3 linked regions of the Homo sapiens genome follow. The protein of the gene in region 3 interacts with the protein of the main gene of each other region in a pairwise test. Each region holds a gene or a part of one and is shown on either strand. Other genes may lie near its edges. The genes, in order: CCDC125, KLHL20 and C21orf58.

Region 1 (3,652 bases), on a different chromosome or scaffold from region 3:
CTATTATTTATGACTTCAAATAGAACTTAAAGTAAAAGTCTAAAATATCTAGTTTGAGCAACATCTAACAGATTCTGGATCCACTTTTTCCCAGATTTTTATAAAATCATCTTGGTTCTTTTACAAGATTATTTCCTTAAAAAGGAGATTTACCTATTTTGTCAAGGTAGATAAGAAGATATTTATTGAATCAAAGAATAATCCCTTGAGAGGCTGTGTTTTACCTCTAGTGCAGTAGACTCCTGCTTGTTAAGGGCAACCTCTGGCCTGTGTTAAGAAGGGTGTGGTCAGGATTAGGCAGGCAGCAGAGAAGAAAATGGAATTGGTCAATATAAGGGGGAAAAGCTGTAAAAGGAAAGAGTAAGCAATTGTAGAGTTAGCTAAGAATATTTTTCAATGCACCACATAAATTCAGGCATCATGGGTACGCCTTCCTGCTATTCAGAGTTGAATATAATGAGGTTTTGTTGTTGTTTTGTTTGTTTTTTATCCCTGCCTACTGTTTCTTAAACTTAACTTCAGGCTGGGAATGGTGGCTCATGTCTGTAATCCCTGAACTTTGTGAGGCCAAAGAAGGAGGACTGCTTGAGCCTAGTAGTTCAGACCAGCCTGGGCAACACAGTGAGACCTCATGTCTACAAAAAAAGGAAAAAAAGAAAACTGCTGGGCATGGTGGTGCACACCTGTAGTCCCAAGCTACACGGGAGCCTGAGGTGGGAAGTCAAGGCTGCAGTGAGCTGTGATCACGCCACTGCACTCTAGTCTGGTCAACAGAGCAAGACCCTGTCTCTAAAAATAAATAAAATAAAATGTAACTTCAGGGACTGCTGACTGTATATTCTCCCACTTTTTTTTTTTTTTTTTTGAGACAGCGTCTTGCTCTGTCGCCCAGGCTGGAGTGCCCTGGCGAGATCTCGGCTCACTGCAAGCTCCGCCTCCCGGGTTCATGCCAGTCTCCTGCCTCAGCCTCCTGAGCGGTTGGGACTACAGGTGCCCGCCACCACGCCCGGCTAATTTTTTGTATTTTTAGTAGAGATGGGGTTTCACCGCGTTAGCCAGGATGGTCTCGATCTCCTGACCTCATGATCTGCCTGCCTCGGTCTCCCAAAGTGCTGGGATTACAGGCATGAGCCACCCCGCCTGGCCTATTCTCCCACTTTTTATATGCTGATAGTAAGGTAACATGAAATACCATACAAATTAAACTTCACTTTTGAAACACATTACTTCCAAGAAAGTGAAAATATTTGAAGTCACTAAACTATCCAACCAGTTTAATGTATTCAGGGTTGATGACCAGGGAAGCAGCAGGATGTGTTAACGGAGAAGGCACTGACTCGAGAGGTCTGGGTTCAAATCTCACTTCACCACTTGCCACTTTTTGATCTTGGGTAAGTCATTTAACTTCTTAGAGCCTGTTTTATTTCTTAACAGGGGTTTAAGCATAACTACTTTATTGGGACATTTTTGGGCACCACTGATATATTTGAAATCAACTATGGTAGCCAAATCAATGTTTATTGAATTTGAATACTATTTTCTTCAATTGTCAATTTAGGGGACTAGATTTTTGGTTCTTCAGAGCTCTAAAATTGTTTCTGTATCAGCATTTTCCAAAGTGTGCTCCATGGAACATGTTCTCCAGACTATTAGGTTTTGCTAGGAATAAAAGTGTCCTTTTGGTTTTATTGAGGGCTGGAGTGCAATGGCGCAATCTCAGCTCACTGCAACCTCCGCCTCCCAGGTTGTAGCAATTCTTGTGCCTCAGCCTCCCAGGTAACTGGCATTATAGGCACCTGCCACCATGCCCAGCTAATTTTTGTATTTTAGTAGAGACAAGGTTTCACCATGTTGGCCAGGTTAGTCTCAAACTCCTGACCTCAGGCCATCCGCTCACCTCTGTCTGCCAAAGTGCTGGGATTATAGGCGTGAGCCACCAAGCCTGGACTTTTTTTGTTTTAATTTTTTAAATTAAAATGAGTCTGTATTTATGCCTGTTTTATGTTCAATGCATTCAGCAATTTACTCTACCATTTAATTTCTAATTGGACAAAATTAGAAAATAATAAAATATGTTGAACAATAAAGAAATAGTTAAATCTTGGTTTAACAACTTTATAAAATACTATGTAATTAAACAAAATTAATTAAATAAGTATTAGAGTTATAGTGTATTTAACATAGTTTAAGAATAATCTCCAGCCTGGGCAACAAGAGTGAAACCCCATCTCAAAAAATAAAAATAAAATAAAAATAAAAATAAAAATACTATGTAGTATAGACTAGGCAGCAACATGATAAATGCTCACATATACAAGTGTAAAACATAAAAAGCAGAATTCAAAGTTGTCTGTACTAGAACAAAGATTAGAAGAAAAACAAAAGATAAAAATAAATTAGTAGGATTAGAGTATTTTTCCATATACCATTTTTATAATATTGTATTTTAACAGTACTACAAAATCTAAGAATATCTACAGCTGATTCTGTACTATATGGTAATCTTGAATAGATAAACACAGAGGTTCCTTCATACTTTATACGTTTGACTTTTTTTTTTTTTTGAGATGGAGTCTCGCTTTGTCACCCAGGCTGGAGTGCAGTGGCGCCATCTCACCTCACTGCCAGCTCCGCCTCCTGGGTTCACACCATTCTCCTGCCTCAGCCTCCTGAGTAGCTGGGACTACAGGTGTCCGCCACCACGCCCGGCTAATTTTTTGTATTTTTAGTAGAGATGGAGTTTCACCGTGTTAAGCAGGATGGTCTCAATCTCCTGACCTCATGATCCGCTGGCCTCGGCCTCCCAAAGTGCTGGGATTAGAGGCGTGAGCCACCACGCCCGGCCTACCTTTGACTTTTAAAAGACGACTTGAACCAACATATCAATATATGCTGTCTAAAATAGATGTGTCAACGTTTAGGATTAAAGTATTTATTTTTATATGGACAGAGTCTCAGTCTGTTGACCAGGCTGGAGTGCAGTGACAGCTCACTGCAGCCTCGACCTCTGGGCTCAAGTGACCCTCCCATCTCAGCCTCCCGAGTAGCTGGGACTACAGGCATGTGCCACCACACCTGGCTAATTTTTTTGTTCTTGTAGAAGCTAATTTTTGTATTTTTTGTAGAGACGAGGTCTCCTTATATTGCCCAGGCTGGTCTCAAACTCCTGGGCTCAAGCAATCCTTCTGCCTCGGCCTCCCAAAGTGCTGAGATTACAGGTGTGAGCCACCATGCCCAGCCAGGATTCAAGTCTTTTTTTTTTTTTTTTTTTTTGAGACGGAATTTTGCTCTTGTCACCAAGGCTGGAGTGCAATGGCGTGATCACGGCTCACTGCAACCTCTGCCTCCTGGGTCAAGTGATTCTCCCACCTCAGCCTCCTGAGTAGCTGGGATTACAGGTGCCTGCCACCACACCCAGCTAATTTTTGTATTTTTAGTAGAGATGGGATTTCACCATGTTAGCCAGGCTGGTCTCGGACTCCTGACCTCAGATGATCCACCTGTCTCGGCCTCCCAAAGTGCTGGGATTACAGGCATGAGCCACCGAGCCCAGCTCGGATGTATTTTTTTCTATTCCAGCCCAGGCATACGTGACTTGCCCCAAATACAATGGTAATTAGCAGCAGAGCCAGGACTAGAAACAATATTTCTG
Region 2 (3,652 bases), on a different chromosome or scaffold from region 3:
CAGCACTTGGGAGGATAAGGCAGGCAGATCACTTGAGCTCAGGTGTTTGAGACCAGCCTGGGCAGCGTGGTGATTCCCCGTTTCTACAAAAAAAAAAATACAAAAATTTGTTGGGCATGGTGGCATGCACTTGTAGTTGCAGCTACTCTGGAGGCTGAGGTAGGCACATCACTTGAGCCCAGGAGATTGAGGCTGCAGTGACCTACGATCATGCCACTGTACTCCAGCCTAGGCAACAGAGTAAGACCTATCTCAAAATTAATTAATTAAAATAATGGTGTTTATTTTCTCATAGGTGCTGCAGCATGTTCGTTTGCCTTTGCTTAGTCCCAAGTTCCTGGTCGGCACAGTAGGCTCTGATCCCCTCATCAAAAGTGATGAAGAATGCAGGTATGAGTGACCCTGGATGGGAAAAATCAACAACTAAGCATTCCTATTTTTTCCTAATTTCCTTATTTGTATTGCTTCCTAAATATTGTATTTTGCAGAGCTGAAACCAGGGCTTTAATTTAACAAGGTTTTCTTCTGGGCTAGAGTCAAGAGGAGGAAAAGAAGAAGAGAGAACTGAACTTCCAGTGTTTCATTCCATTAGGTTTTTATGTGTGGTGCTTACTGGTGTAGAAGTGGCAATAAAAAGGTAGATTTCCAAGATTTTAATGCAGGCTTGAATTTAAAGAGTCAATTCTCTGCTAATATTTTTTTTTTCCTTGAGATAATTAAATAATGCTGTTGACTCTGTCAATGAACATTTTTTCCTTCCATCACATATGTCTGGTTGGGGAATAGAATCAGCCTTGCTTTCTAAATTGTGGACAGAGTTGAAGATCTGCCACTTTCTAAAACAGCTGTAGAAAGATTTTCACTAAAACTAGGTGAAGCAGTTTCCAGAGGTTTTTTGACGAAAGAAACTCTTAACTACTTTTTCAAAGGGGGGGAAAAAAGCAACCTATTTTACTAGGCTGTCTTTAAAGTATATACAAAATGTAATAAATTACATTCCCAATTTGACAGATTGTAAGATTTAGGTTCAAATCTGAAATCATCTGGGATTGTTAACCATTTTTCCCCAGCATGTCCCAAATATAAAAGTGAAAGAGAAAATCCATACTCAGAACTTTGTAAACTACACTGACCTTTGAACCTCCCTTGGTGATTAAAGACATTTAGAATGATCCCTGATTCTAGAATGGTGGTAGGACATGTAGATTCACTTGCATTTCTTCTATAAACTAAAGCCTGTTCTTTTAACAGGAGAGGCTGGAGGGGATTTTAGATGTTTCTATTTTATTTTATTGTATCTTTTTTATATTAATCATTCTTCATTTTTCAGTTTACCATAGACTAGAGTTAAACTAGATTTTTGTATTCTATATTTAAAACACAGACAGGCCGGGCGCAGTGGCTCACGCCTGTAATCCCAGCACTTTGGGAGGCCGAGGTGGGTGTATCACCTGAGGTCAGGAGTTCGAGACCAGCCTCAACATGGAGAAACTGCATCTGTACTAAAAATACAAAAATTAGCTGGACATGGTGGTGCATGCCTGTAATCCCAGCTATTCAGGAGGCTGAGGCAGGAGAATTGCTTGAACCTGGGAGGTGGAGGTTGCGGTGAGCCAAGATCACACCATTGCTCTCCAGCCTGGGCAACAAAAGTGAAACTCAGTCTCAAAAAAAAAAAAAAAAAACACACAGACAAATGGCAATTAATTCTCCTAAATATTTGCAGTAGCAAAAAGGAAAACCATGTACATTATACATGCTGAAATCTGAAGAAATAATACATAGATGCCCTCCTCCATTAAAAGTAAATCAGATTGTATTGTACTGATTCTGATGCAGAAAGTAAAAGTACTTATGAAGTCATATTTAAAAGAAGACCCTTCCTGATATCCTAACTTCTTTTTGCTGCAGTTTCTTCCTCTATAAAGTGAGGATGATAATAGTGCCTATTCCATAAGGCTGTTGTGAAGATTAAATGAGTTTATATCTATTAAGCACTTAAAACCAGGACTAGCACATAGCTGTAAGTGTTGTTACTACCATTAATTTTGTGTTGGTTTGCTCAATATTATAGCTCTATAGTATTATTTGTAGGAACCCTCAAATGACCTAACAAGCTATTAGGAGATCAAAGTCTTTGTCTTTTTTTTTTTTTTTTTTGAGACGGAGTCTCGCTCTGTTGCCAGGCTGGAGTGCAGTGGTGCAATCTCGACTCACTGCAACCTCTGCCTCCCAAGTTCAACCGATTCTCCTGCTTCAGCCTCCTGAGTAGCTGGGACTACAGGCGCGTACCACCACACCCAGCTACTTTTTGTATTTTTAGTAGAGACGGGGTTTCACCATATTGGCCAGGATGGTCTCAATCTCTTGACCTCATGATCCACCGCCCCTCAGCCTCCCAAAGTGCTGGGATTACAGGCGTGAGCCACTGCAAAGTCATTACATGTGTAATTACTAGACTCTTCTCTTAAAGTGTCTTAACAAGACAGGAAATATGTCTCGGTAGACTTGTTGAGAGTAAACCATTCATATGTTACCAGATAGCAAATTTGTGGCAGTACAGTGTTTCTTTTCAGCAATCCGATTTTTGACCCAGTTTTATTACTTTAATCTAGCAAATAACTATTGCCCTGGCTGATGTGCTACCTTGCTAATATCTTGCAGAATCTAATAAAATTTATTAAAAAGTAGTAACTCTGCAGTGTGGTAATCAAATTGTAATTTTTACTTTTCTATAAGTTATTGTTGGCTGTAAGCATGTTGAGCTTTAGGCTAAATTTGCAGTGAGACATGAGTCATGATGGAAATACCAATCAATTCACAACTCAGTTTGACTGGCATTATTGGTTTCATGTTTGTGCCAATTTTAATATTGGCTGGCATTCATGATTTGGTTTGATTTATGCTTGCTTCCCTTTGCCAACCTATATATTCCTAAACTACATTGGGACTTAACTAACAATGTAATTTAGATATTTGGAATAAAGGCAGAATTTTTTCTACAGAGACTTGGTAGATGAGGCTAAAAACTACCTCCTATTGCCGCAAGAACGACCACTAATGCAAGGACCAAGGACGAGACCACGGAAACCTATCCGATGTGGGGAAGTACTCTTTGCAGGTTTGGATCTTAATATACTGTTAGTAAATTGAGTATTTTCCCAGGTGAGAAACTGTCATTTGAAAAATCCTTTGGACAATTATGATATTTACTGTCATAAGACACAAATAATAAGTCAGCATATAGCTTGACTCATAACCCATGATTCCACACTGATATACTCCAAAAGAGTGCTCTATTCTTTTTTCTCATTCAACACCTTTAATATCTATTTTTATATAAATCCAAAAATGTTGGCTGGTCACAGTGGCTCATGCCTATACAGCTTTCTGGAGGCCAGGCGTTTGAGACCAGCCTGGGCAATATAGGGAGGCCCCATCTTTACAAAAAATAAGAAAAACAATTGGCTGAGTGTGGTAGTGCATGTCTGTAGTCCCAGCTACTTGGGAGGCTGAGACAGGAGGATGGCTTGAGCCTAGGAGGTCAAGGCTGCAGTGAGCTGTGATTGCACCACTGTACTCCAGCCTGGGGAACAGAACAAGATCCTGTCTCAAAAAATAAAAAATAAAAATGTCGTGCAGTAGATGTTTT
Region 3 (3,652 bases):
GCTTCCCATTCACTTGGCAGTCACAGCTGTGGGCACACAGGCTCAAGTCTCTCCTTAAGTCAGTCAGTATTACAAACCATACATAATAGTATACTTGACCACTGCATAAATGTTATAAACATTCCACATCAAGAGAAAGAGGAGAGGAAAAAAAGTTAACCAGTTCAACGAAAAGGAGAATCTGGCAAGGAAGCATCTCTGATGTGGGCAGAGCCTGCAGCAGCAGATGTGGAGGGCTTCTCACAAGTGACAGCAAGACTGTCTGTAAAACGGCCACTTTGACCTGGTGGTGTTCTGCTCTTTTCATGGCCATAGAGTACTCTGGTAAGGACTGATAGTAAGAGTGTCTTGTTTATGTCTTTATCTGGGTGGGTGCAGTATCTACTGATGAGGAAACATCTGGTCCCTGTTGGCCTGATACCCTTTTTTTTTTTTTTTTTTTTTTTTTGAGGTGGAGTTACACTCTTGTTGCCCAGGATGGAGTGCAGTAGTGGTGCCACCTTGGCTCACTGCAACTTCCGCCTGCCTGGCCCTATCTTATAATTTAAAAGGCATCAGGGGCCAGGTGCTATGGCTCACACCTCTAATCCTAGCACTTTGGGAGGCCAAGACGGCAGATCACTTGAGGTCAGGAGTTCGAGACCAGTCTGGCCAACATGGTGAAACCCCATCTCTACCAAAAATACAAAGATTAACTGGGCGTGGTGGCGTGCACCTGTACTCCCAGCTACTCGGGAGGCTGAGGCAGGAGAATCACTTGAACCCGGGAGGCGGAGGTTGCAGTGAGCTGAGATGGCTCCACCTCTGCACTCCAGCCTGGGCAACGAGCAAAACTCCATCTCAAAAAAAAATACATAAGATGGAGTCCTTTTCTCAGATGAGGTCACTTATATCAAGGGTGCTCTATACAGTTGCTTAACTAAATTAACCTGGTTTTTGTTCTGTGCACACTCAGAGCTGTTTAAATGTCTCCCAAGACTGTCACTGTTAATGACTGTGGACAAGAGCCAGGTTCTTTTATTATCTTGTTTATTTATTTTTTTATTTTTTTTATTTTTTTTCCAGACGGAGGTTTTGCTCTTGTTGCCCAGGCTGGAGTGCTGTGGCGCAATCTTGGGTCACTGCAAACTCTGCCTTCCGATTTCAAGCAATTCTCCTGCCTCAGCCTCCCGAGTAGCTGGGATTACAGGCGCCTACCACGACGCCTGGCTAATTTTTTGTATTTTTAGTAGAGACGGGGTTTCACCATGTTGGCCAGGTTGTCTCGACCTCCTGACCTCGTGATCTGCCTGCCTCAGCCTCCCTAAGTGCTGGGATTACAGGCATGAGCCACCGCACCTGGCCCTTTTTTATTATTTTTTATAGAGATGGGGTCTTGTTGTGTTGTGCCGGCTGGTCTCCAACTCGTGGACTCAAGTGATCCTTCTGCCTTGGCCTCCCAAAGCACTGAGATTACAGGCGTGAGCCAACGCCCAATGGCACTGGGATCTTAAACATGGGGCCAGAGTCTGCTCATGTCCAGCAGCACCAGCGAGGACCCCTGACTGCCATCTGGGAATGTGTGGCACCAGGCAGGTCATGTGACCCTAGCCCACACCCTCCACAGATCTGGAGGGAGGGTAAGGCCTGGTTTCATGCTGACTTCATTTCTGGTTGGATGGCCTCCAGGGTAAGGTGAGTTGAACTCTACGTCAGGAGTAATCCAGCCCCTCCAGGGCCAGCAGGAGTAAGGTGCGCCCCTCCAAGGATCTCCATGAGCTGCCTCTGTGAGCCTGACCTCCTACGGGCTAGCCAGCCTTCACCCAATCACTCACTGGTCCAGCTTCAGGGTCCCTACATGGATGTGGGTTGGAAGACAGGACAGGCACACAACCATAGATACTGATGGACATGGGCCATTTACAGAACTGAGGGCAAGAGAGCAATTTTGGCCACTGAGGCAAGTTCCTGGGTTAGCTGCACCGAGGAGGGTGCTGACCTCTGCCCCTCGGGTCCACAGGTCTGGGCCCCTGCTGCTGACATCCCCCACATGTCAGTCTGCCTGCTAGTGGGATTGACTAACTCATCAACGTGGAGTTTAATGCCCAACCAAGTGCAGACCACGCTCCTGTTTTGCGTCACCCTCTGCGAAGCTTCCTGCAAACTTGACTCCCTGCCCAGTGCCCCCAGCCCCAAGGTGGGACATATCCCCTGGGCACCCCCTCTGGTCCTGCTAAAGCCCAGCCCCTCTGCAGGTCACAACCCCTCCTCTGTCCTACCCCTTCTGCTGCCTGCAATTTCCTGAACTCCTTGGTAGGCAGTCTCCTCACCCTGTCCTCCCAGTGTCTCCCCACCCTGTCTTCCCTGCTTGCTCTGAGGGTCCCTAGGAGGGAGGTATTAACACCCTGGAGGCAGTACACAGGTGGGGCGCCCTCCCCTGACACACAGGTTCTTCTGGACTGGGTCCTGAGGCTGGTGGTGCATAGGGGGTCACGACTGCCCTTCCCCCAGGTCTGAGGGTTCTGCCCCTCTGCCTCAGCTGCTGCCCACTTTTTTGCCTTCCCATGAAGCCCAGCTGGCCACACCTGGGGATGAGTGTTTACCGGTAGCCTGAGGACGCACAGTGGAAACCTGGCAACCTGGGGCCTCCCTGTGTCTGGCAGCCTGGCAACTGTCACGCGGCGCCCAGCGCTGGCTTCTGGGGCACTGCAGTCCAGGGAGGGTGTGGCTATCTTCCCACAGGGCTCTTCTCTTCCCTCAGGCTGGTCTCCAGGAGGTAAGGCCCGCCCTGCAGGCAACACCGGTGCTTGGGCTCCTGCTGAGCAGTTCTTTCCTGCGAGTAACAGAACCAGGGAGGGAGGTGGGCTGTGGCCTCCCCTGCCCCTACAGTCGTCTCCTGCAGCTCCCACCATGCTGGACTCATCAGCAGCAGAGCAAGTGACCCGACTGACGCTGAAGCTCTTGGGACAGGTGAGGCAGAGCCCGGGATGCTCCTGTTTTTAACAACTCGCAGGCTGTGGCGTTGGAGGGACTCTTCGAGACAGCCCTGCAGGTGCAGAATGCAGGGCCCCAAGGGCTAGGCCTGGGGCTGGCAGCCCAGCGGACCCATCCTCAGACTTAGTCTTCACATTCTCTGAGGGTCTGGGTGGCCCATGACCGACCTGCCTGTCCTCGCAGGCCACTGAGCACAGGGTCTGGGGAGCCTCGGTGCCTGGGGGCACCTCTGCACCCCCTGCCTGCATTGTTCCCTCTCCTGCTGCCTGAGGGACCTGCTGCCCACCTTTCGCCAGCCCTGCATCCTGGCCCACAGGCCGCCATGAGAGGGACTCACCCCTGGACACACCCAGCAGGTAGCTGCTCAGCTCAGGGTTCAGGTGGGGGGTGATCTAGGCATGCACTGGCTGGGAAGCCTGGAGGCCTCACCAGTGAGGTGTCTCCCAGGGTTGCTCTTCAGAAATCTGCCTGAAGGGACCACTCAGAGCATCCGCCCCTAGACTTGTGGATGGAACACATGAATTTGCTAGAGGTCAGGCTTACAGAGGCAGCTCAGGGAGATCCTCGGAGGGGCTTGACTCCCGCCTGTTGGCCCTGGAGAGGCTGGGTTACTCCTGACGTACCATTCTTTTCACTCAGAAAGCCTCTTAGTCATTCCTGGAGCACACAGGGCCTTTGC

Evidence for each region.
Region 1: the proteins of C21orf58 (region 3) and CCDC125 interact in a two-hybrid assay, tested with the Homo sapiens proteins (one large-scale study listed by BioGRID).
Region 2: the proteins of C21orf58 (region 3) and KLHL20 interact in a two-hybrid assay, tested with the Homo sapiens proteins (one large-scale study listed by BioGRID).

What each region holds. Positions count from the first base shown.
Region 1 is NC_000005.10:69,326,248-69,329,899, forward strand, and holds part of CCDC125 (coiled-coil domain-containing protein 125), read right to left. Parts: intron 1-3,652. UniProt on the Homo sapiens protein: May be involved in the regulation of cell migration.
Region 2 is NC_000001.11:173,752,918-173,756,569, forward strand, and holds part of KLHL20 (kelch-like protein 20), read left to right. Parts: intron 1-295; coding exon 296-390; intron 391-3,005; coding exon 3,006-3,121; intron 3,122-3,652. UniProt on the Homo sapiens protein: Substrate-specific adapter of a BCR (BTB-CUL3-RBX1) E3 ubiquitin-protein ligase complex involved in interferon response and anterograde Golgi to endosome transport.
Region 3 is NC_000021.9:46,317,309-46,320,960, reverse strand, and holds part of C21orf58 (uncharacterized protein C21orf58), read left to right. Parts: intron 1-135; exon of another isoform or gene 136-305; coding exon of another isoform or gene 306-324; intron 325-1,999; exon of another isoform or gene 2,000-2,176; intron 2,177-2,740; coding exon 2,741-2,949; intron 2,950-3,156; exon of another isoform or gene 3,157-3,295; coding exon of another isoform or gene 3,296-3,329; intron 3,330-3,612; coding exon of another isoform or gene 3,613-3,652.